2 separate regions of the Homo sapiens genome follow, and region 2 is linked to region 1. The links come from fine-mapping of genetic effects on gene expression. A gene starts in region 1. The other region holds a variant in brackets. All regions are shown on one strand. Distances are between the middles of the regions.

Region 1 (11,329 bases):
TCCAAGGAACAAGCAATGGCTGGAGAAAAAGAGAGGGCTCGTGAAAACCAAAATACGATGACAGAACTAAAAACATAAACAGGAGACGGAAGGTAAAGTTGAGGAAATCTCCCTGAGTAGAAAAAGATGAAGCTATAGAAAGTAGGGGAAAACGCTAAGAAAATCAGGGAACGATTCCTGAAGGTCCAAACCCCAATTAACAGGAGTTCCAGAGAGACAAGAGAGAGAAATAACAAGAAAACGCCCTAGAACTGAAGGATGCGGTCTTCTGGACGGACAAGGCCCACTGGCAGCTTAGCACAGGGAATGAGTCATGATATTTCAGAGCCAGGGACGCCCCGAACACGTTCAGTGCAGGAAGAGTCAGGGATGCAGAGGAGTCTCGGCTGGGGGTGCCCTGGGAAGCAGGGGCTGAACCCAAGTGACTGTCGTTGTGGGGAATTTCCAGGCTGCGATGCAGGTAGCCCCAAGGTGACACTGGCTGGCAGGACAAGGACAGAGCAGGAGGGCAGGGGCTCCCGGGGGTGTCTCCAGGAGGAGCACCTGGCATGTTCTGTGAGTGGGTTTAGCTGCACAGTTAGGGAAAGAGGCTGTGACGCTGGACCTGGCTAGGGATGGCATCAGCCCAGGGCCTGTGTCCCCACCTCCCTGCTGGCTGCACCACCTGAGGCCTGACATGGGCTGTTCTTTTTTTTTCTTTTTTTGAGATGGAGTTTTGCTCTTGTTGCCCAGGCTGGAGTGCAATGGCGTGCTCTTGGCTCACTGCAACCTCCATCTCCCAGATTCAAGCGACTCTCCTGCCTTAGCCTCCTGAGTAGCTGGGATTACAGGCACCCACCACCATGTGGCTATTTTTTGTATTTTTGTATAGCCACCATGTGGCTAATTTTTGTATTTTTTTAGGAGAGACAGGATTTCGCCATGTTGGCCAGGCTGGTCTCAAACTCCTGACCTCAGGTGATCTGCCTGCCTCAGCCTCCCAAAGTGCTGGGATTACAGGCGTGAGCCACCACGCCAGGCTGTCCTTTTAGGGGCTGCTTTAGGGACCAGCCTGGCTGTGCATGGACACAGAGGCCAGCAGGAGCCTCTCTCTAAGGAGGCCAGAAGAAAGGCCGCTTGGAATTTGGAAATCTGGCTTGAAGCCCTGGTGCTGAAAACAGGCCCTGGAGACCAGGCCTCCCAGAACAAAGCGAGCATGAGCCTCTGGCACAGCCAGGACCGTCACTGCCCGGGAGCCTGCCCTGGGCCCCGGCTGGGTCCCCCTCCCCCCACCCCATGTCTGGAGACCAGCAAGGCTGCCTGGAGGTGCGTTCCTGCGCCAGTGCGGTCCTGATGATTCGGGGCAAGGGAAGAGACAGTGATGCTGCTGGCTTGGAGAACACCAGATCAGAAGCCATTAAACCCGCAAATCCACAGATGCTGAAATCTAGATGCTGCAGCCAGGCTTGCCTGGGCAAGATGAGAGAGGTTTGTGGGTGAGGCTGCCCAGACCCTCTGAGGGTTCCCACCCCCTTCATGGCCTGCCCCTGGGGACCTGCCACCTAAGCTGCCTCAGCCCATCCTGCGGGAAACCTTTGCTTCTTGGAAGGCTGGGCCATGGAAGAGAGACCACCCACACCCCACCCCAGCCTCAGGGTCCTTTCACTCTCCTCTGATCCCCTCTAGCTGAGTCTCTGGCGTGGGGATTTCAACAGCTGTGAGCAGAAAGGCCCAGGAGGCCCACTGAGCACCCTCCCCTGAGCCTGCCAAGGCAGGAATACTCAGGGCAGGGCCTTAAGCTTGTGACAGGCTCACCCTAAGTCCCTGCTCTCTCTGAATTCAGCCCCTCTCCTCGGGAGGGTCCCAGCAGGCCAGGCCACCAGTATGGCAGGGGTGCGGTGCGGTGTGGTGCAGTGTGGGCGTGGTGGCCAACCCTGGTGGGTAGGTGGATCCAGGCAGCCATAACACAGCCAGGGGGCAATAGGCTGCTGGCAGCAGGAAGCACTTTTCTGGGGCATTGCTCTTTGGGGAGGGGGGACTTGTGGCTTTCACTCCAGGCATTGCTGAGAGCAGTGGGGGCTCCCTGTAGGCAGTGAGCTCACAGCTCACAAATCCCACTCCCCATCTTCGCCAGGGTCAGCCACACTGAGACGTTTTTTAAAACTCCACAGCGTAACTGGGGACTTCTCTACAAAAAAATTAAAGAATGACTCAGGTGTGGTGGCACGCCTGTAGTCCTAGCTCCTTGGGGGGCTGAGGTGGGAGGATCCCTTGAGCCCAGGAGGTTGAAGGTGCTTTGGGCTATGTCTGTGCTACCACACTCTAGGCTGGGTGACACATTGAGATCCTGTCTAATAAATAAATGTAAAGGTCTACTTCTAGAGAAACAATGTTAAAGAGTGAGTTTTCTTGCCCTGCCTCCACGTCACGTTGTGGGTCAGGCTGCCCTGGGATGGGGTCCCCTTGCCCCAGCCTTTTTGAATCTGCTCTGGATACAGCTCTGCCTGGAGGAACAGGGTATACACCCAGGAAAAGGGCCCCTTCTTGCGCCTGGTGGGGGCGGTGAGAGTGGATGGTCTGCATGTGTGTGGTGGGAGCTGCTGCCAAGGTGGAACAGTTTCCCTGCCGTCTCCCCCTGTCCTGGAGCTGGAGCATTCTGGAGAAAGGATGATCCTAGGTACCCTTTGGTGATGCAAATCGAGGAGGAGGAAGAGGGCCATGCCAAGCCCGCCCCCCAATCCAGGGCGGACCTGGTAGGAATGAACTGGAAGGAATAAATGGACAAACCAAGTTGAAGATGGGGACGGGGGTGAAGAGCTCCTTTGGAGTCCAGCCTGACTCAAATTGTCCTGCCCTGCCCCTGGAACCCTGGTTCACTGTCCGGCCTGAAGGTCCCTGGGGCGGGGCCTCTGCACCCCTGAATCTGGCGCAGAGCAGGTGTATGTGAAGGTGAATGTAAGGAAAAGAGATGCTTGAATTCTGAATCCCACTGAAATTAGCCTAGGAACTTCATCAAAACAATCACCTCTTTGGGGAGGAAATAGGTACTAAAATTCATCCAACTGTGACGCCTGCTTTCAGCATCTCAGCTACATTCATGCATTCTCAAATTCTCAGCCTGATTTTATTTTTTTCCTGATTTAGGGTCTCACTCTGTCACCCAGGCTGGAGTGCAGTGGCTCGATGATAACTCACTGCAGCTCAAGTGATCCTCCTGCCTCAGCCTCCGGGGTAGCTGGGACTCTAGGCATGTACTACCACGCCCGACTAATTTTGTGCTTAATTTTTTTTTTTTTTTTGTAGAGACAGGGGTCTTACTATGTTGCCCAGGCTGGTCTTGAACTCCTGGCCTGAAGCGATCCTCCCACCTGAGCATTCCAAAGTTCAGCTTTAATAGTGAAGTACCATCTATGTGGGAAGTGGGATTTAATTCTCAAGTTTAAAGATTTTTTTCTCATATTGATTTTAACTCCATTGATCAGGACTTGACTATCTTATATTTAAGGCAACTTTAAAGGTGGGCTGGACTAGGCTGGGCGCGGTGGCTCATGCCTGTAATCCCAGCACTTTGGGAAGCCAAGGCGGGCAGATCACTTGAGATCAGGAGTTCCAGACCAGTCAACATGGTGAAAACCCATCTCTACTAAAAATACAAAAATTAGCCAGGCGTGGTGGCAGGTGCCTGTAATACCAGCTACTTGGGAGGCTGAGGCAGAGAATTGCTTGAACCCGGGAGGCAGAGGTCGCAGTGAGCTGAGATCGTGCCTCTGCACTCCAGCCTGGGCGACAGAGCGAGACGCCATCTCAAAAAAAAAAAAAAAAAAAAAAGGGTGGGCAGACTAAAGCTTCTCTTTCCTTAGGAAATATTTTATAGACACAAATGAGATTATATGAGGAGGTTTAAATTCCATCAGACACAAAACAGCTCAACACTCTCAACCACTAGGAGATAACTCATTTACCTAAGATCTCAAATGTATGTTAATTAAAATATAGTCTTTTCTCCCGATTAAAGCCAGTCTCCTAAGGGTTGCTACCAAGTCATGCCCCTATGGCTTGTGCTTAAAGCACAACCCCACGTGGCAGCTTTTGCTAGTTGCTTTTCAATCTCCACTACCCCTTTCCTCCCAAATAAGAAAACTCTGATTTTTAGCTGGGTCTACTGCTGCCCAATTGAAAGATGGCATTTCCCAGCCTCCCTGGCAGCTGGGGCATGGTTGTGTGGCTAAGTTCTCCCACCACCTTCAAGAAGTGGAAAGGTGTGAGACTTCTGGAAAGTCTCCCTGAACGAGAGAGGCATATCCATCTTCTCTTTTGCAGCTGGTTCCTGGGCCGAGGAGGTGATGGCAGGAATGTGGGCAGCCATCCTGGATCATGAAGAAACGTGAATGGCAGATAGAAAAGCTGATCCTTGAGGACTTTAGGGCTGCCATACCAACCACGATTGCCTCTCCATGGACCTCTTTTATAAAAATATGAGTAATATTCTTGTTTAGGCCACTGTGATGTTGGGATTTTTCAATACATGCAGCTAAACCTAACTGATACCCCACTTCCCCAAGTTCAGCCTTCATCCCATGCACAATTTCAAACTATAAAACACAGGAAGGGAGCCTCTGAGCAGATACAACTGCTCCAGGCCTTGGAGTTGGCCAAGGATAGACCCACAGAGAACAGCCATTCACTCAGTGGACAAGCCCATCAAGTGTCTACCCCAAGATCCTGTGCTGAAGAAATGATGGCTTTGGGAGCAGCAGGTTTTATGGGGGAAGACTGAGAGTGTGGTTTGGGACACGTTAAATTTGAGAGGATCTGTTAGGCGTCCAAATGGTGAAGAACAGGTAAACAGGTCTGGAGTTTCAGGGTTGAGGCTAGAGATATAGGTTTTGAGAAGTTTGGGAGAAAATGGTTGTTTATAAAACCATGTAACTGTAGGAAATCCCCCAGGGAGGGAGTGGATAGAGTAGGTTCCAAGGACTGAGTCCAGGGTCTCCAGTGTTGAGAGGTCGGTGAGCAGGGGAGGCATCCAGCCAAGGAGATCAAGCAGGAGTGGCCAGGAGCGAGGAGGAGAAGTGGACAGTGGGATCTGTTTCAGCCAAGTGAGGATGCTGTGTCACGGAGAGGGCACAGTCGGCTGGGTCACGTGGTAGTGACAGTTCAAGGAAGAGATGAGCGCTGACCCCGATCATCGGATTTTGCAACATCAAGGTCAAGGATGACTTTGATAAAGAGCTTCAGAGGAGTGGTTGGGTGAAAATCTGATGGGAGTAGTTTCCAGAAAGAACAAGTGGGAAGGAATTGGAGATAAGGGGAAACTCCAGAGGGGTTTTGCCCTTCAGAGGGTCGACTGGGTGGTAGGAAGAGGAGAGTAGGGAAAATCAATCAGTTACTCAAAAATAAACATGGACCCTACCCCCAACTAAGAGAAATCTTAGATGCCAGCGCGCCTAGGCTCACATCGCGTCTGTTGGAATAAAGTGGTCATGGAGCCCACGGACCTTTCTGAGCACCTGGCACTGGCCAGTGAGGACAAGCAGGAACAGGTCAGACTTCTCAATTCTGAACCGAGGGGGGCATGACTTCCATCTCCTGTGTCTTACATCTGCACGTTTCACAACAAGCCAGAGACGTGGTGGTGGTGCGGCAGGGAAAAGTGCAGCGCTGTGGGGTCAGGCCGACCCAGATCCGCCGTGATCTGGATGCAACCCCCACAGCCAGGGCACGCCGGCCTCGTTGTGCCTGCTTCTCTGGCTGTCAATGGGAAGTTTAAGTGAGGCCACGTGTGGGTTTTTAGCTCTCTGCTTGACACATAGCAGGTACTCAGATTGAGGTGAGCGTTTTAAGGTACAAATTAGGGCACCACTGGGGGGAGTAGCGAGGGCGGAAGAGTATCTTTTTAGAACGCACCGCTGATAGTGGTGATTTAAAAAAAAAAAAAGAGGCACCGTTCACTTTCATCGGGGAGCTGGGAAGAAGACAGAAGAGGTGTTTGGGAGAAGCAAGATGAGCAGCGAGCGAGAGGGAACCGGCCGGCAGGTCATGAAAATCGGCGGCGCGTCGCCCCGCACCTGTCCCGCCCCCGTACCTGGCGGGCGCTCGGGGCAGCCGAGCCCTCCTGCCGCCGCCACCTGCCACCGCAGCAGTTTCCTGGGCCAGCTGGGGCTAAGGTGTTGGCAGTCGTCGTCCGTCAGCTCCCGGTAGGCAGGACGCCGCGGCTGTTTGGCGTCGTCACCTAGCAACCGGCGGCACGCTCCGCCGCCATCGGGTGGACTACAACTCCCACAATACACAGCGCCGCGGCGCGGCCCGGGACGCCAAGCCCTGGGCGCCACCTCCCCGCCATGCCTTTCGGGACTTGTAGTTTCTTGGATACCCGGGCGCGGCGGGTCGCCCCGCCGGCAGGGAGCGCGCCTCGGGCGGGGTGCGGCGCCCGCGCAGGGATTGGGCCGCCTCCGCCCCGCCCGCCCCGCCCGCAGCGCGCGGTGGGCCCGGGGCTCGCGGCGCCCTAGGCGCATGTGCGGCGCGGGGCGGCCGTGACCAGCGGAGCGCTGGGTGTCAGTGAGCAGCGAGGAGCCGCGCGCCCCCGTGCCCGCGTCTGTCCGTGCGCCCGAGCGCCCACTCCCGGGTCTGAGGTCTGCCCGGCGCGCCGCTTGCAGAGCATACTCAGGGCCGCGCACCTGCCCCGCGCACCTGCCCGCCGCCCGCTCGGCGCTCCGGGCTTCGCTAGCCAGCCTCCCTGCGACAGCGCGGGGGCTCCGGCCGTGCCTCCGCGTCCGCCCCGCGCCTCAGCCGGGCCCGGGCGCAGCGCTGCGGAGGGCGAGGGCCGCCCGGAGTCCGGCCAGGGCCGGCGCGGCGATGATGAACAGGTTCCGAAAGTGGCTCTACAAACCCAAGGTGAGCGGCCCCGCTCGGGCCGGACGCCCCCCGCGTCGCGGCCTCTCCCTTCCCCAGGACCGCCCGTCCGCCCTACAAGACGGACTCCCTTTCCCTGTCCGTGGCCGGCCTCTTCCCCCACCGCCGACATCCTTCCCTCCACTCCAAGACTTGGACAGATCTTCATCGCCCTGTCTCTGAGGCGGATCCGAACCTCCCTCCCGGCTTCCTAAGCCCGGGTCCAGGACTGACCCTCCTGCTCCTCCTCTCGGGCCGGGGCGCACTTTCCCTCCCCCTCTATCCAGGGCCACAACGGGCCCCTCTCCCTCCTCATCCCGGTCCTGGACGGTGCCCTCCTACACTTCGTGGTCCCCAGCCCGCGGGCCCGGAGCAGACCCCCTACTACTTCTCCGTCTCCCCTCCCTGCACCAGGAATGCCCCCTCATTCCCGTCCTGCCCCCACCCCCATTGTCCTGGGCCCGGAATAGATCTCCCTCCGCACTCCAGAACAGACCCTCTCCCCACTTCCCCAGGTTCTGAGAGAACCCACATTTCCCAATCCCTGGGTCCAGGGCAGACCCGTCCTTCCATGTCCAGAGAGGATCCTGATGGCCCTGCCAACGGCCTCCCTTCCCGAACCAGGACTGACCCACACCTCGGCCCAGTTCGCGTCCCCTCCCTTGTCCCTATCCTTGTCCCTTCCCCACCCACGTCCTCTGGAATCCGGGACAGGTCCTCCGCCCGGCCCTTGGGGCGAGCGCGCCCGTGGCCAGCAGCCTCGGCGGGGCGGGAGGTGCGGCTCTCCAGCCGGCGCCCGCGCCTCTCCTAGCGCCGCGGGGTCGGGGTCCGGGCGGCGCGCCCCGTGCCTCAGCGGCTGCGCCAGTCGCACTGCGGGCGCTGCGTCCCCGCCGCCCGCCTGGGGCTCGTGCCCGCTGCAGCCGGAGCAGGGCCGGGCGCGCTCGGCGCGGGATGAAGGCGCGGCGGTGTTCAGGATCCCGGCGCAGGGTCCAGGGCGCATCTGGGCGTCCGAGGGTGGCACCCTGGGGCCGGCGCAGCGGGGAGGCCCGGGCCCTGAGATCTTGGGGGAGGTCACGGCTCGGGTGGGGTCACCGCGGCGACCAAGGGCGGGAGTGGGGCCAGCGCTTCGTCCGGGCAGCTCGGACGTCCGAGGCCACCGCGTTGCCGACCTACCCCTCCTCCCTCCACTGGCCGCCTTTCTCCGTCCAGCGTCCCAGGCCTCCGCCTCCACCGTGGGTGAGCTGTCACGGCAGAGGTTTCCTGAAATCCGTGCCTCGCGTGCGCCCATTCCAGGAAGGCGGGAGGTGGGTTTGGAAGATCGGCACGGAGGTTTGAGGGCTCACTCAGGGCCCCGAAGGGCGCGTGCTTCACGGCCTTTGAGGTCGGGGAATTCTGTTTGTCGTTGCCGGAGTGTTGGGTTGAGGGCTTACGGTACATGGGGCGCCCCTTGCTCGGCCTTGGCTTGATTGGGAGGGGACTCGGGGGGATTCAGGGTTCCTGTGGCGTCACTCCCTGCTCCCAACCTCCCTGTCCCTAGCAGCGACTTCTTAAGGGTTCGTCCCGAGCCTTGCGTTTCCTGGCGCTGGGTGTGGTTTGGGGCCGAGCCGTCTGCGCCCAGCCTCTCCTCCTGCGGCGCCTTCGAGCCCCTCTCGGTCCTGCCTGCTGCCCCCATGTGCCTCTGCCGGGGTAGGGCGGTGGCCTCCGCTCTGGATAGCTGTATGAATGGTGTTTGGTTCCAGTGACTTTTCCTCACCAGTTACTGAAAACCAAGTCTGCTTGTAAAACGGCGTTTTGGGGGCGTGCAGCAGCATTATTTTCTGTGACAAATGGCGGGAGGCAGCTGGAGAAATGTGTCTTAGGTCTTAACTAACATTCTGGTGTCGCTGAAGGCACTTGCTGGGACACTAGGGGATGCCCCTCCGGACGTGGCTGTGGAAGAGGCCGCATTTGGGGGATCACCCTTCTAATCGTGTTGAAAAGGAAGGAAAAATAATTGTAGACTCTGTTTCATGAGTAGCTGAGTAATTTCAGGATGGCCTTGTCTGTTTCCGTTTAGGGAAGACAGGTTAAAGGTAGAACATGGTACTAGACGTTGTCCTGAGAATTAGGAATTGCGTTCCCAACTTTTCCTCTTCAGCAGGCAGCTGCCTTTCCAGGCAGGCGGCGGGCACCAAGAGGGCACAGCCAGTGAATCAGCTGATCCCAGGGATCAGCCCAGAGCTGTGTGCCTCCGGAGAAGGGATGGAACAGGATTGATGTGGATCTCTCCTTTTTCTCGTTGTCTTCTCCTGGCATGCTGTCTGGTAGTAGCTCCAGAGCTCTGGACTTGAGACGTATCTCCATTTCAGATCTGTCTCTGGCCATAGCATTTTTCTGGGAGCTGGTGCCCTGTGGGCAGTCTGAACTTGGGCTGTCTCTTATTTGAGAAATGTCTTTGGAGTTAAATATCTTGATTGTTTGAAGGGTCGGAGTATGTTATGTCACTCCATAGCTTTTCATTTTTCAAACCAAAGCTCAGATTCTTGCCTTGGATTATGAATTGAATTTTATGCTTCCCCTTCCTGTCTAATTTAACACATTTTGGCACAAATAAGCACAAAGTCAGTCCTGGGAAGATTCTGGGCCTGGAAGAGTTGAAGTGTTAAACATTAGCTGTGGGAGGATGTGTCTGGGGGAGACTGTTGCCTGCAGTCAGGAATTTTTTTCCCACTTTGTATTTAGATAGATGTACAATTCAAACTGAATTTTTAATTGAATTCCTGCTTTGGTTTAAAACTGCACAGCGAGCTTCTTTTTATAAATTTTTAAGTGTGTGTGTGTGTGTGTGTGTGTGTGTAGAGACAGGGTCTCACTATGTTGCCCCGGCTGGACTCAAATTCCTGGCCTCAAGCAATCCTCCTGCCTCAGCCTCCCGAAGCACTGGGATTACAGGTGTGAGCCACTGTGCTTGGCCAGCACTGAGCTTCTTGTTCATCACAATATGGTGGAAAATATTCTGAAATGAAAATATTATTCACTGTTCTTATAGTTATAAAAAGCAATTGGAAATGCTGAAAAATATTCCTGTGTGACATACATTTTGATATCTGAATAAAAATTAGCTACTACGTTAGCTACCTAAGTTGAGTAAAAGAATGCCTGATGAATAATACAAAAGTTTAACATTAAAATGACATTTGCAAATTATATTTCTATTCACTTTCTTAATCAGTCTTTTAAACACCAATATGATTTTTCTTGGTATAAAGTGTTCAGATCTTGTAAGTATTATCCTGACTTTGAACACTCCCAGGAAGAGACGGTGCAGGAAAACCTGTCAGCTTGTCCTGCTTTATTGATGTTGGTGAAATACTTTCTTGCCTTTCTTTAAAGTCTTTTCAAGAGAGTTTATGCTTTAGAAAGGCAAACCATTTTGGCATGGTTGGTGTCTTCATCTGAAACAAAAGTCTCAGTGCTGTGTTTCTTGCTTGGTTATGACTTTCTATTGATTGACCTGGCTGGAAGTTCCTGGTCACTAGGAGGTGAGAATTCCCGGCATGGGGGAGAGGGACCTGGACACTTACCTGGACCTGGGAGAGATTTCCTGGCCATCACCAAAGAGCATATTAATATCACTCAGGATGAATTTGTGTTTTCCATCTTTGAGGAGGAATTGACCCTCAGTGGGTTATGCTGGCTGGGTGGATGGGGTAGTTCCCATGTGGCTGGTTACCATGCTCAACCTTGCACTCCGAGAAGAGCTCGCTTGTCTGCACCCCCAGACCGTTTTCAGAGTGGGGGCTATTAACCTTTCTTGTCCCCCCGCTTTGTAGGAGAACATTCCTTATAAATCTGCCTTACTGAGTGATGTGTATTTGGCAACTTCCTGTAAACATTCCAGGCCCAGATTAGCGATGACATGGCCTTTGCCAAGAGAAGCCTGAGTGACTTGCTGGGTGTGTGTGCTTTATGAAAGAAGACCCCTTTGGGTTTGGTAAAGTCTGCCTGGGTGCCAACCCCACTGGCATGTTTTGTGGGAACCTGCCAGGACTGAGCAGTACTGAGTATGGGACTTCCTGCCCTTCGGCTCTTGTTAACCCAGCCTCAGTCACCTGAGGGTTTTCGGGGTTCCAGCCCACTTGGTCATGGGCCCTTGAAGAGAGCTGCCCATTGGTGGCCAGCACTCTGTACCTTGGCCACCTGGTTGAGAGGGGCGGCACCCTGGAAACGAAGTGGCAGATGGGGGCGGGCCCCAGAGTGGGGGGTGGGGCAAGGTCTGGATATATCTGTTTGGTCCCGAAGTGCAGAGATGAGGCGCAGCCCAGTCCTCCTTTTGGGGCTCCCCACTGGTGGCTGAGGGTGAGGGGCGATGACAGAGATCCCCCAGAAGTATACAGCTGGGGCTTGGAAGGCTGTGGGAGGGGTCTTGGTGGACACTGGGGCCTGGCACGAGTGGGGCCTATGAGAGGGCAGTCACTGG
Region 2 (11,329 bases), 86 kb after region 1:
AGGCTACAGTGAGCTGCGATCCAGCCACTGCATTCCAGCCTGGGCGAGAGAGCGAGACTGCATCTCAAAACAACAACAACCACAACAAACAAAACACGGAGGCAGATGGTGTCCGCAGAGGTTCAGTTAATAAGTTTTTCATCTTGTAATCTACTGGCCCCTAGGAGATCAACCAATGCATTAAGGGCAGTCCTCTGCAGGAAGCAAGAGCACGGACAGTCGAGTTTTATTTTCTTGTCTTCCCCAAATTTTCTAAATCAGCTTCCATAAGAAAAAATTAGAGTTAGTGATTTATTTATTTATTTATTTATTTTCTGAGACGGAGTCTCACTCTGTTGCCCAGGCTGGAGTGCAGTGGCACGATCTCAGCTCACCGCGACCTCCACCTCCTGAGTTCAAGCCATTCTCCTGCCTCGGCCTCCCAAGTAGCTGGGATTACAGGTGACCACCACCACGCCTGGCTCATTTTTTTGTGTTTTCAGTAGATACAGGGTTTTACCATGTTGGCCAGCCTGGTCTCAAATGCCTGACCTCAAGTGATCTGCTGCTGGCCTTGGCCTCCCAAAGTGCTGGGATTACAGGCGTGAGCTACTGCACCTGGCCTAGAGTTGGTGGTTTAGAAGGAAAGAAAGTGCTCTCATCTGGGGAAGGGTTGGACAAGCCTTCACGTCTCAGAGCCACTGGCAGGCCTCCTGCAAGCCGCTGTGCCCAGCCTGGGCTGGCTTCCGTGGCTGTGGAGGTCCACGTGCGGAGGTTCATGTGGGGCTGCGGGTTGTTCACCCACCCGTGCACGTGTTCATTCGTTTCTCTCTCGCCCCTTAAGGCTGGTGCCAAGGTGGGGGATGGTCCCGCACATGGGCAGCACTGGGTCCAGGGTGGTCAGGCTCCAGGGTGAGCCCTGGGAGCTGGCACAACTGTCCCGCATGGGCAGGGCTGGGGTTTCAAGGGAAGGCCTGGGGTAGGCCTGGCTGGCAGGAGCTGTGTACTATGAAACTGCCGAAATGGGATGGTGGTGTAGGGTGTGTGTGTGTATTTTAAGAGAAAAGGTCTTGCTTTGTCACCCAGCCTGGAATGCAGTGGCACCATCACCATTCACTGCAGCCTCCAACTCCTGGGCACAAGTGATCCTCCCACCTCAGCCTCCCAAGTAGCAGAGACTGTAGGTGCCTGCCACCACCACACCCGACTTTTTTATTTTTTGTAGAGATGAGGTCTTGCTGTGGTGCCTCGAACTCCTGGGCTCAAGCCATCCTCCCACCTCAGACTCCCAACGTGCTGGGATTACAGGCGTGAGGCCCCCCGCCCCCACCTTGCCCAGCATTGCAGCTTTAATTGAAGATGCCCCCCACTCTGTTTTGGAGGGGCCCCGCCACAGCCCAGGTGCGGCCTCACAGGTCTCCATGTGTTTGCAGCTACGTCTCGGCCATGGTGCCTGTGAAGTCCCCCAGGGAGTACTACGTGCAGCAGGAGGTCATCGTGCTCTTCTGCGAGACGGTGGAGAGGTGAGCACAGGGATGCTTAGGGGCTGGGGGCAGCATCTGGGGAGTCCCTGCCTCACTCCAGGCCCGGGGCAGAGGGCAGCTCTGGGGGAACCTGCTGTGTCTCGGGAGTGCCCCAGATGGAAGGCACCAGACGTGTCTTCCCACACTACATCCGGCTTCTCCTCACAGGTGGGCAGAGGGTAGAGGCCACCCCTGCCTTTACCTCTGCCCGGCCCCCTTCCACCGCCCCACGGTCGCTTTTCTGTCTGCCAGAAGGTCAGATCCTGCAGGTGAAGTCACTGTCAGAGGACAAAAGCTGGAAGGCTCTGGCATGATGGATTGGACGTCCAAACCTTGTCACCTTCCTCACCCCCTCACTCCTCACCTACTCACTCCTCATGTCCTCACTCCTCACCTCCTCACTTCCCCACCTCCTAACTCCTCACCTCCTCACTCCTCACCACCTAACTCCTCACCCCCTCACTCCTCACCTCCTCACTCACCTCCTCACTTCCCCACCTCCTAACTCCTCACCTCACCTCCTCACTCTTCACCTCCTCCCTCCTCACCTTCTCACTCCTCACCTCCTCACTCCTCACCTCCTCAATCCACACCTCCTCACCTCCTCATCTCCTCACTCCTCACCTCCTCACCTCCTCACTCCTCACCTCATCATTCCTCACCTCCTTACTCCTCACCTCCTTACTCCTTAGCTCCTTATTTCTCACATTCTCACTCCTCACCTCCTCAATCCTCACATCCTCACTCCTCAATCCTCACTCCCCACCTCCCCAGTCCAGGAATGAGTTTTTGCTGAGTTTTAAGTCTGTTGAACAAGTGTTTCTTTTTTAGGGAGTGGGGGGGGCAGGGGGAAGCCATCAATATTCTTATCAGGCTTTGTACAGTAATTTGGAGTCTGGTTTTCTCAATGGACTTTGGGGTTAAGATGTAACCTTGATGTTTCTCTTGTTCAAGTGGTACTATGGTGTTTGGAAGATTTGAAATTGACTATTATCACATTGTATGTTTGTTATTTTTAAAAAGCAAATTTTTACTCTTTGTGCTTTGAGAGATATTTCAAATTATCAGAAAATAAGATGACGGGAAATTCCTTTTATTTTGAAAAGTCACGATGCCAGCAGGCCTGCTCACGAGGTGCAGGAAAAGCCCTCCACAAGCCCCGGGGAGGAGAAAGGAAGCTGGTTTCTCAGGGAAGTGTTGAATTGTTTGGGGCAGTATTTTTGTTCCGTGTTCATTCTTGACACCGGAGTTGTTTCGGTCTCCTGGCTGAGCAGAGCCGTCCTCTGGGTTGCCTTACTGTCTTTGCTGGGCATCATAGCTGTCCTCACACATCCTCCCTGCCCCTGCCTCCTGGGGCAGAGGTGGGGACTGGCAGATGGGAAGGTCAAGCTGGAGCCACCTGCCAGGGCATTTAGGGAAGTGTGTGGCCTTTTCCTGCAGTCCCAGCCCCTTGCACATATGAGGACTGGGGGTGGCATGTGTCACCTCTTGACGTGGCCACCACGCGTGGCTGCAGGTACAGATTGAGCGCACTGCCTGTCCCTGCTGGGGTCCAACCTGTGGCTGTGGTGGGCCAGCCCTCATGCTGCTCACTGTCCGTCTCCCCGGACAGGGCCCTGGACTTCGGGTACCTGACTCAGGACATGATTGATGACTACGAGCCGGCCCTCATGTTCAGCATCCCCAGGCTGGCCATCGTGTGGTGAGTGCCTCCTGTGCCCAGGACCTCTGCAGAAACCTGCGGGACGGGCAGGGCTGATGGTGCCAGGTCCCGTGCGGGTGCCGGTCCATGGCGTCTCCACCTCACGGTGGCCGCTCAGCTGTCCCGATCAGTGACAGGCAGGCCTGCTGTCAGCCCTCAGCAGACCAGGGGACCACGTGTCCTGAGTGCCCCCTGTTCACCTTGCTGGTGAGGGAGGCTCTGTCACCCTAGATAGGGCAAGGTGGCCTAACACCTGCCACCTGCCACTGGACAGGTGAGATCCACAGGTGAGCTCATTAGTCACAGGAGACCATGAGGGTCACACAGGGGTCATGCTCGGAACAGAGTGGCCACGCAGGGGCTGTGGGAGGCAGACTTGGTGGTAACAAGAGGACGAGCTGCCCCCCGGGTCCCTCAGGAGGCTGTGATTGGCTTGTTTGAATAATTTGGGGGCTGGCAGGGAGGTGAAGCACATTGGGTTGAAGGGCAGGTGGGGGCAGTTGGTCTGGCTGATGGAATACCTGTGTGGAACCTTTCCTGCCAGCGGGGCCGTCTGGGAGAGCAGGGAACTCAAGGCAGCCTGTAGGGTCCTGTGGGGCTCAAGGACGTGAACACAGCACATGGAAGCTCAGGCCTGAAATCCACCGAGGCAGGATGCGCGGGGTCACCTGCTTAGCGTCTCTGAGCTGTCTGGGGCCAAGGTTAGAGCCCAGGGGTCAGGCTGCTCATCCACACCCTGACTCCAGACGGGGATTCCCCATGCCCCTGCCAGGCGGATGGTCACGGGGGCGGAGGAGTGAGTGGACCACAGAGAGCTTAGTGGAGCTTGCAGCTGGGGGGGAGGCGGAAGTGGGGAGGGGGAAGAGGGGAGGGGGAAGAGGGGAGGGGGAAGAGGGGAGGGGGAAGAGGGGAGGGGGAAGAGGGGAGGCGGAAGTGGGGAGGGGGAAGGGGAGGGGGAAGGGGGAGGGTCCAGTGGGCAGCGGCCAGCAGGTGTGGGACTGGGCAGAGTAGGGGATGGGGAGCCCTTGAGAGAGATGCCCGTGGAGATGTGGATGTCAGTGAAGTGGTCGGGGAGTGGGGGGTGGGCACAGAGGCCACGACTGGTCCAGGCTCAGGCTGGAGAGACCTCACTGAGGCCATGCTGAGGAGCCCCAGGGGACCCCGGGGCACAGGCACACGTGGCAGTGCACTGGGGTTGAGCATGGATACCCCTCCCGTGGGAAATGGGGGTGCAGAGGTGGGAGCACGCGGGGCGGTGGCAGTGCAGTGGGCTAGGGCCAGCGGCGGGGCCTGCAGGGGACAGAAGTGCTTAACCCCAGGATGCGCCGAACACCCCTTGTTGGAGTGGGGAGCAATGGGGGCTGCTGCCGGGGCCAGTCTGGACACCCCTGGGCCAGGCCGCTCACTCCCCTAGGTCCTGGTGCCACCTCCTCCGGGAGGGCTCCAGCGTGGTCTCTATCTGCTGGGCCCTGGCTCCCCAGAGTCCCCTCCAATAGCTCAGGGCCTGGCCTGTTTCCTGCGCCGTCCTTCCCGTGTCCTCGCAGAGGTTGCGTCTTTCACAAAGTTAGCAAACCAGAGAGAGTGAGCCTCACATCGCGCCAGAGGGAGGCTCGGAAATCCTCCTGCCGTTAGACTCAGGGAACTTCCTTTCACCTGAAGACCTCAGGGCTGGAGGGCAGGGTGTCCCCAGTGGCCAGCGACAAGGTGGCTTGGAGGGAAGTGTCCTGGCGGGGAGAGGCCACCCCAGAGCACAGAGCGCCCCTTCCCATGGGCCACAGGATTTGGTGACATTGTTTTTCTTTTCTAGACAAGTGTCTCTCTGTGGCCAAACTCACTTGAAGAAAATGACAGGCAGTTTTGGTCCTTATTCTTCTCTTTGTTTAAAAAACAGAACAGCAAAGATCCTGCGAGCCGGCCTTGTTTCCACCAGGGCGCAGGGCGCTGTGAGCCTTTGCCTCAGGTACAGGTGTCTCCTTGTCCCAAGGGCACTCACAGCAAATGAACAGCTCTGCTGTCCTTGTAAAAAGTTCTCCGCGAGTGCTTTGAGGTGTGGCACCAAGCCACCCGCCCACTCATGCCCGTGTCAATGAGCCGGTGAGCCCTGGCTGGACTTCCTCTTAAAGGTCGGGCCTGGAGTGTGCAGGTGACCCCAGGTGACCCTCCCCGCAGGCCGCACCCCAGGCATACTGTGTTTCGGGACTTTCACACTGAGTCTGCTGCCCGTGTTTGCCCGAGTACAGGCGACCGCAGAACAGCAGCCACTTCCCCCAACCAGTATCATCTGTGTCCTGCTTGCCGACCTCAGTCCACCTGCTGGTGGCCAAACCTCTGCTCCTCCTTCTGTCCTAGGCTTTCATCCTGGGAGGCAAGGGGAGGCGGGGGCTGGGGGATCAGGGTAGGGGAGGCCAGAGGAGGGAGGTGGGGGGGCAGCTTGGGGAGGGAGGTGGGGGAGTGTGGGGGGTCAGGGAAGGGCAGCAGGGGGGGTCAGGGAAGGGCAGCAGGGGAGGCCAGTGCTGCGGGGGAGGCCAAGGGAGGGAGGTTGGGGAGGGAGGCTGGAGCTTCTGTTGGCAGAGGCTTTGTCCCGCGGGTCCCCTCCTGGAGGCACTGGCGTGGGGTCCCCTCGGGCTCAGGACAGTGGGAGAGCCTGGAAAGGGAGTGAGGGACCCCCAGGAGGTGAAGGGGGCTTGGATTGAAGGAGGGAGGAAGGGCGAGAGGGCATAAGAGCCCAAAGCC[A/G]GAGTCCAGGGAGCAGGCCTGTCCAGGGGGGTGGCCAGCTGTGAGCCCCCACAGAGGCAGGCATCTAGCCACAGAGCCAGGCTGTGGATACGAGGAACCGTGGGGTGCACCAGGCTGCCACTGCAACCCTCTGTGCAGCGAGCCTCGAGCAGGGCGGGTGAGTGCTGAGCGGGTGAGTGCTGAGTGGGCAGCTGTTCCTAAGGCCGCCCCTCTGGGATGCTCACTGGGGCCCTGCAGCCCTGCACCACCAGCGGATCCCGTCTTGTTCCTCGTCATCCACAGCGACCGCTTTGAGCCGGACAGGCAGAGGCCACAGCTGCCCGTGGTGGGGCCCAGAACCTGCTCCTTCCTGTGTTCATTCAGTGAGCAAGTATTGAGTGCCTACTGCATACCTCGCCCTGTGCTTGTACCAGGGAGATGGACAGATGGGCTGACCCACAGTGCTGTGGAATGTTCTGGATGCTGGAAGGGGGACTCAGTGCAGGGACCCCATGGGGTGGACAGGAGCTGAAGGCGTGAGGGAGAGGCTCCCCAGGGCAGCCGGCCCAGAGGTGGGAGCTGTGCAGGTGGCAGGCAGGGGCACGTTGGTGCAGGTGGTGTATGCTCAGGGGCAAGTCCAGGGCTCGAGCAAGGACCAGGGGGCCGCAGGAACTTCTGCAGAAATGAAGACCCCTCTAGCCTGCATTCCTGGGCCCACACCCTCGCAGGATCCTGCCTCTGTGAAGTGGGCATCCTGGGACCCCCCAGGTGACCCCCAGGGAACACTGAGAGCAGAGGGGAGGCAGGGGTGCTGAGCGGGGCAGGAGCTGAGGGTGGAGCTCCTCTGTGGCTCCTGCCCGTGACTGTGCTGCTGCCCGAGAGCCCCAGTCCCTTCTCCAGCACACAGTGTCAGAACAGTGATGCCACATTTACCAAGCATGAGCTGCGGGCCAGGCTCCCGTCCCCTTCTGAGGGGCTCCCAGTGGCGAAGGCACCGCTGGGGGTCAACAGCTGGAGGCGGCAGAACCAAGCCCACCCGAGGGTCAGAGCCTGCTATTCACCTGTGACACAAGAAAGCAGAAAACTCTAGTTCTGTGGCTGGCAGAGGAGGCCTGCCTGGGGCAGAGGCAGTGGTAAACTGAGGCCTTCAGATTGGCAGGGGGAGGTGGAAGGGAGTGCTGGGTGGCACCCTTCCCCCTGTTTAGGGTGTCCCCAGCCTGGTGGGGTCTGGCCTTACCAGGCAGTGAGGACAAAAACTGGGGGTCACCCCTGTGGGGACTTGCTCTGAGCCGTAGGGGAGGGGCCCCACTTGCCCTGCACCCCTCAGCCTGTCCCCTCCCTAAGACCTGCATCCAGTCAGTCCCTCCTGCTGATTGAGACACGCGTCCTGGGGAGAGTGTCTCCACGAGGCTCAGACTCTTTGACAAACTGGTTTTACTTTTGGGGATTTATCTTAAAACAGTTTCTTTTTTTTGTTTTTAACTTTTTATTTTTATTTTTTAATTAAAAAAAAAATAGAGACAGGGTCTTGCTGTGTTGTCCAGGCTGGTCTCGAGTTCCCGGGCTCTAGCAATCTGCCTGCCTTGGTCTCCTAAAGTGCTAGGATTACAGGCATGAGGTACCGTGCCCAGCCCCGGCCTTAAAACAGTTCCTTTAAAGGAAGAAATGAAATAAAACCTCTAGACCCAGTGGTCACTTCCCAGTCCCCATCAGCACAGACCTGCCTGCCCGCCTCGCTGCGGCTTCGCCCGTCTGCACTCACAGCTGTGTGTGTGCGACGCTTCCCAGACCGGACCTGTGCAGAACCCAGGCCCCTCTCCTCTACCCCTCCCTCCCTTCCTCCCCAGCCCCTCCTTCCAGCCCATCCCAGAATCTACCCCTCCCTCCCTCCCCAGCCCCCTCCTTCCAGCCCATCCCAGCGTCTACCCCTGCCTTCCTCCCCAGCCCCCTCCTTCCAGCCCATCCCAGAACACGTGCAGGAGCCACCGCCCACGTGGCCTGCAGGATGGTTGCCGGATCCTCTTCAGGGGCCCTCACCCATCCACCTGTGTCAAAACAAGGTGTCATCTCTGCCCTGCTCAGACCCTTGCCGGAGCTCCCACCGTGATCTGCCTGCACCGTGCCCACACCAGTCCTCTCTCCCCAGTCCCCACGCACCCGCTGCCCTGGGTCTCCACCATGCTGTCCCCTTCGCTCAGGGTCCCCTTGACTGTCCTATCCCTACTGCCACACTGTCCCCTCCCCCGCACTGTCCCCTTTTCCATGATGTTTCCTCCTCCACGCTGTCCCCTCTGCTCCAGTGTCCTCTTGGCCATGCTGTCCTCTCCATGGTGCTGGCCCCTCCACTACACTGTCCCCTCCTCTATGCTGTCCCCTTGTCTATGCTGTTCCCTCCTCTATGCTATCCCATTCTCCATGCTATCCCATTCTCCATGCTGTCCCCTCCTCCATGCTGTCCCTTCCTCTGCAATGTCCTCTCCCCTGTGCTCCTCTGCACTGTCCCCTCCTCCATGCTGTCCCCTCCTTTATGATGTTCCCTCCTCCGTGCTGTCCCCTCCATGATGTCCCCTCTTCCGTGCTGTCCTCTCCTCTGCACTGTCCCCTACTCCCTGCTGTACCTCCCTCTGCGATGTCCCCACCACTGCACCGCTCACCCAAGCCCTCTCCCACCAGCAGGTTGCGTGACTTACTCTGTTATTTATTTTTCCATGTTACTGAGATAAAATTCATTACCCTATGACTCACCCATCTACAGTGCACAGTCGTTTTTGGTACATTCAGAATTGTGCAGCCATCACCACAAATTTCATAACATTTTCATTACTCACAAAGATGTCTCTTACTCCTGAGCGGTCACCTCCACCCCCTATTATCCTTCATCCTGCCCCTTAACCCTAGGGAACCACAAATCTATTTTCTGTTTCTATAGATTTGGCTATTGGGTTATTCATATAAATGGGATTTCTGTTATTTTTGTGTCTCCCCCACTAGACTATAACTCTTATTCACGGATGCATCCTGAGTGCCTGTCATGTCATAGTGTGGTGGACTTTTGCAGAATTTTGTTGCATTGATCTGAGGGGGCACAAATATATATCCACAAAGATTATCCCCGAAGTATTACTTGTAATCATAAAAATTTGAGAAGGGATGGATATCCAGAATTAAGGGATTGGTTAAAAACAATACTGTAGCCATTTAAATAATGATGGAGAAAAATCTCCTAATGCTATGCAAAAACATCCCCAGTGTATTAAGCACAAAAACTGTTATCAAATAGTATGTCTCTATTTTACAGAGTTTCTTAACATTGATAGGTAAAACTTTTGTAAACAGAAATTAAAGCAATAAACATTCTTCTTTATTGTGGTAAAATATACATAACAAAATTGGCCATTTTGACCCTTTCTTAGGGTTTTAATGGCAAAAATTGCAATTACTTTTGCACCAACCTAATATATAGGATTTACCCTTTTGTGACTGTCTTATTTCACTTCACATAATGTTTTCAAGTTTCCCCCATGTTGTAGCATGTGTCAGAATTTCCTACCTTTTTAAGGCTGAATAATATTCCATTGGATGTAATTAGCTGTTATTTTAAATAAGAAATGTGTGATAACATTCAAAAGAGTAAAATGCCTAGGAATAAATTTAATCAAGAAGGTGAAAGGCATGGATGCTGAAAACTAAAAAACGTTGCTGAAAAAATTAAAGACATAATTAAAGAGAAAGACATTCCATGTTCATGGATGGGAAGACTTAATATAGTTAGAATGGCAATACTCCATAAAGTGATCTACAGATTCTGTGCAATTGCTGTCGAAACTCCATTGGCCTTTTTGTTTTGCAGAAATGGAAAAGGTGTTCTAAAATTCATGTGGAACTGCAATGGGCCCTAAATAGCCAAAACAATATTGAAAAACAAAAACAAAATTGGAAGATTCATACGTCCTGATTTCAAAACTTACTACAAGTCAAAACCTTATGGTACTGGCATAAAGATAGATGTATAGACCAATGGAATAAAATTGAGAAGCCATAAATAAACCCAAACATCTATGGTGAACTGATTATTGACAAGGGGGCCAAGATCATTCAATAAGGAAAGAACAGTCTCTTCAGTGAATGTTCCTGGAGCAACTGGATAACCACATGCAAAAGAACAAAGTTGGAAAAAAAAAAAAAAAAGAACAAAGTTGGACCCTGCGATGGTTAACTTCATGTGTCATCTTGGGTAGGCCACATTACCCAGATATTTGGTAAAATACCAGTCTGAATGTTGCTGTGAAGGTATTTTTTTTTCTTTTTATAATGATAAACTGGCAATTTATAATTGCGCAGATTTATAGCATGCAAAGTTGTGTTATAATCTATGAATGCAGTGTGGAATAATTAAATCAAGCTGGTTAACATATCCATCACCTCAAATATTTAACATCTTTTGAATGAGATCATTTTAAATTTACTCTCTTACAATTTGGAAATGTACAGCACTCTATTATTAACTGTATTCACCATGATGTGCAAAGAACTCAAAAAAAGAAAAAAAATTCTTCTAGTCTGAGATTTTATACTCTTTGGCCATTCCCCACACCCCCAGCCTCTATAACCACTGTTGTGCTCTCTGATTCTATAAGTTCAATTGTTTGAGATTCCACAAGTAAGTGAGAACATATGGTATTTGTCTTTCTGGTCCTTACTTATTTCACTTAGCATAATGTTCTAAAATTCCATCCAATTTTTCACAAATGTCAGAATCTCTTTTGTTTTTAAGGCTGAATAGTATTCTATTGTGTATATATACCACATTTTCTTTATTCATCTGTTAAACGCTTAGGTTGATTTCATAACTTAGCTATTGTGAATAATGCTGCAATGAACATGAGACTACAGACATCCCTTCAACAAACTGATTTCAGATGTTTGGGGTAAATACCCAGAAGTGGGATTGCTGGATCATATGGCAATTATATTTGTAGTTTTTTTGAGGAACCTCTATACTGTTTTCCATAATGGCTGTACCAATTTACATTCCTACCAATGGTGTGCAAGGGTTCCCTTTTCTCCACATCCTTGGTAACACTTATCTTTCATCTTCTTGATAAAAGATATTCAGACAAATGAGAAATGATATCTCACTGTGGCTTTAGTTTGCTTTTCTCTAATGACTAGTGATGTTGGTCATTTGTATGTCTTCTTTTGAGAAATGTTTTTATCCCTGAAATGCAAGGATGGTTCAATATACACAAATCAATAATTGTGATACATCACATTAATAGAATAAAAAAACCATATGATCATCTCATTAGATGCAGAAAAAGCATTTGATAAAATTCAACATCATTTTATGATGAAAAACTCAGCAAATTAGATGTAGAAGGAATATATCCCTTCAAGGGTACCACTGAGTGAA

Evidence for each region.
Region 2: its variant is fine-mapped to the expression of ZFYVE28 in whole blood (INTERVAL, PIP 0.99).

The regions. Positions count from the first base shown.
Region 1 is chr4:2,413,829-2,425,157 of GRCh38, reverse strand. It overlaps ZFYVE28 (zinc finger FYVE-type containing 28), which reads left to right and starts at 6,513. Exons shown (of 13, transcript NM_020972.3): 1 at 6,513-6,873. The coding sequence starts at 6,835. It overlaps CFAP99 (cilia and flagella associated protein 99), which reads right to left and starts at 6,203. Exons shown (of 16, transcript NM_001193282.4): 1 at 6,065-6,203. RefSeq lists enhancers at 44-632, 633-1,222, 1,813-2,403, 7,794-8,352, 8,353-8,911 and 1 more and silencers at 5,989-6,038, 6,279-6,508, 6,629-6,788.
Region 2 is chr4:2,327,580-2,338,908 of GRCh38, reverse strand. It overlaps ZFYVE28 (zinc finger FYVE-type containing 28), which reads left to right. Exons shown (of 13, transcript NM_020972.3): 5 at 1,413-1,502; 6 at 3,115-3,204. Among named protein-coding and RNA genes, the nearest start is that of MXD4, 71 kb to the right of the region's middle. RefSeq lists enhancers at 3,990-4,787, 5,206-5,265, 4,788-5,585, 5,516-5,595, 5,586-6,383 and 2 more. The variant A/G (reference allele first, on the strand shown) is at 5,938.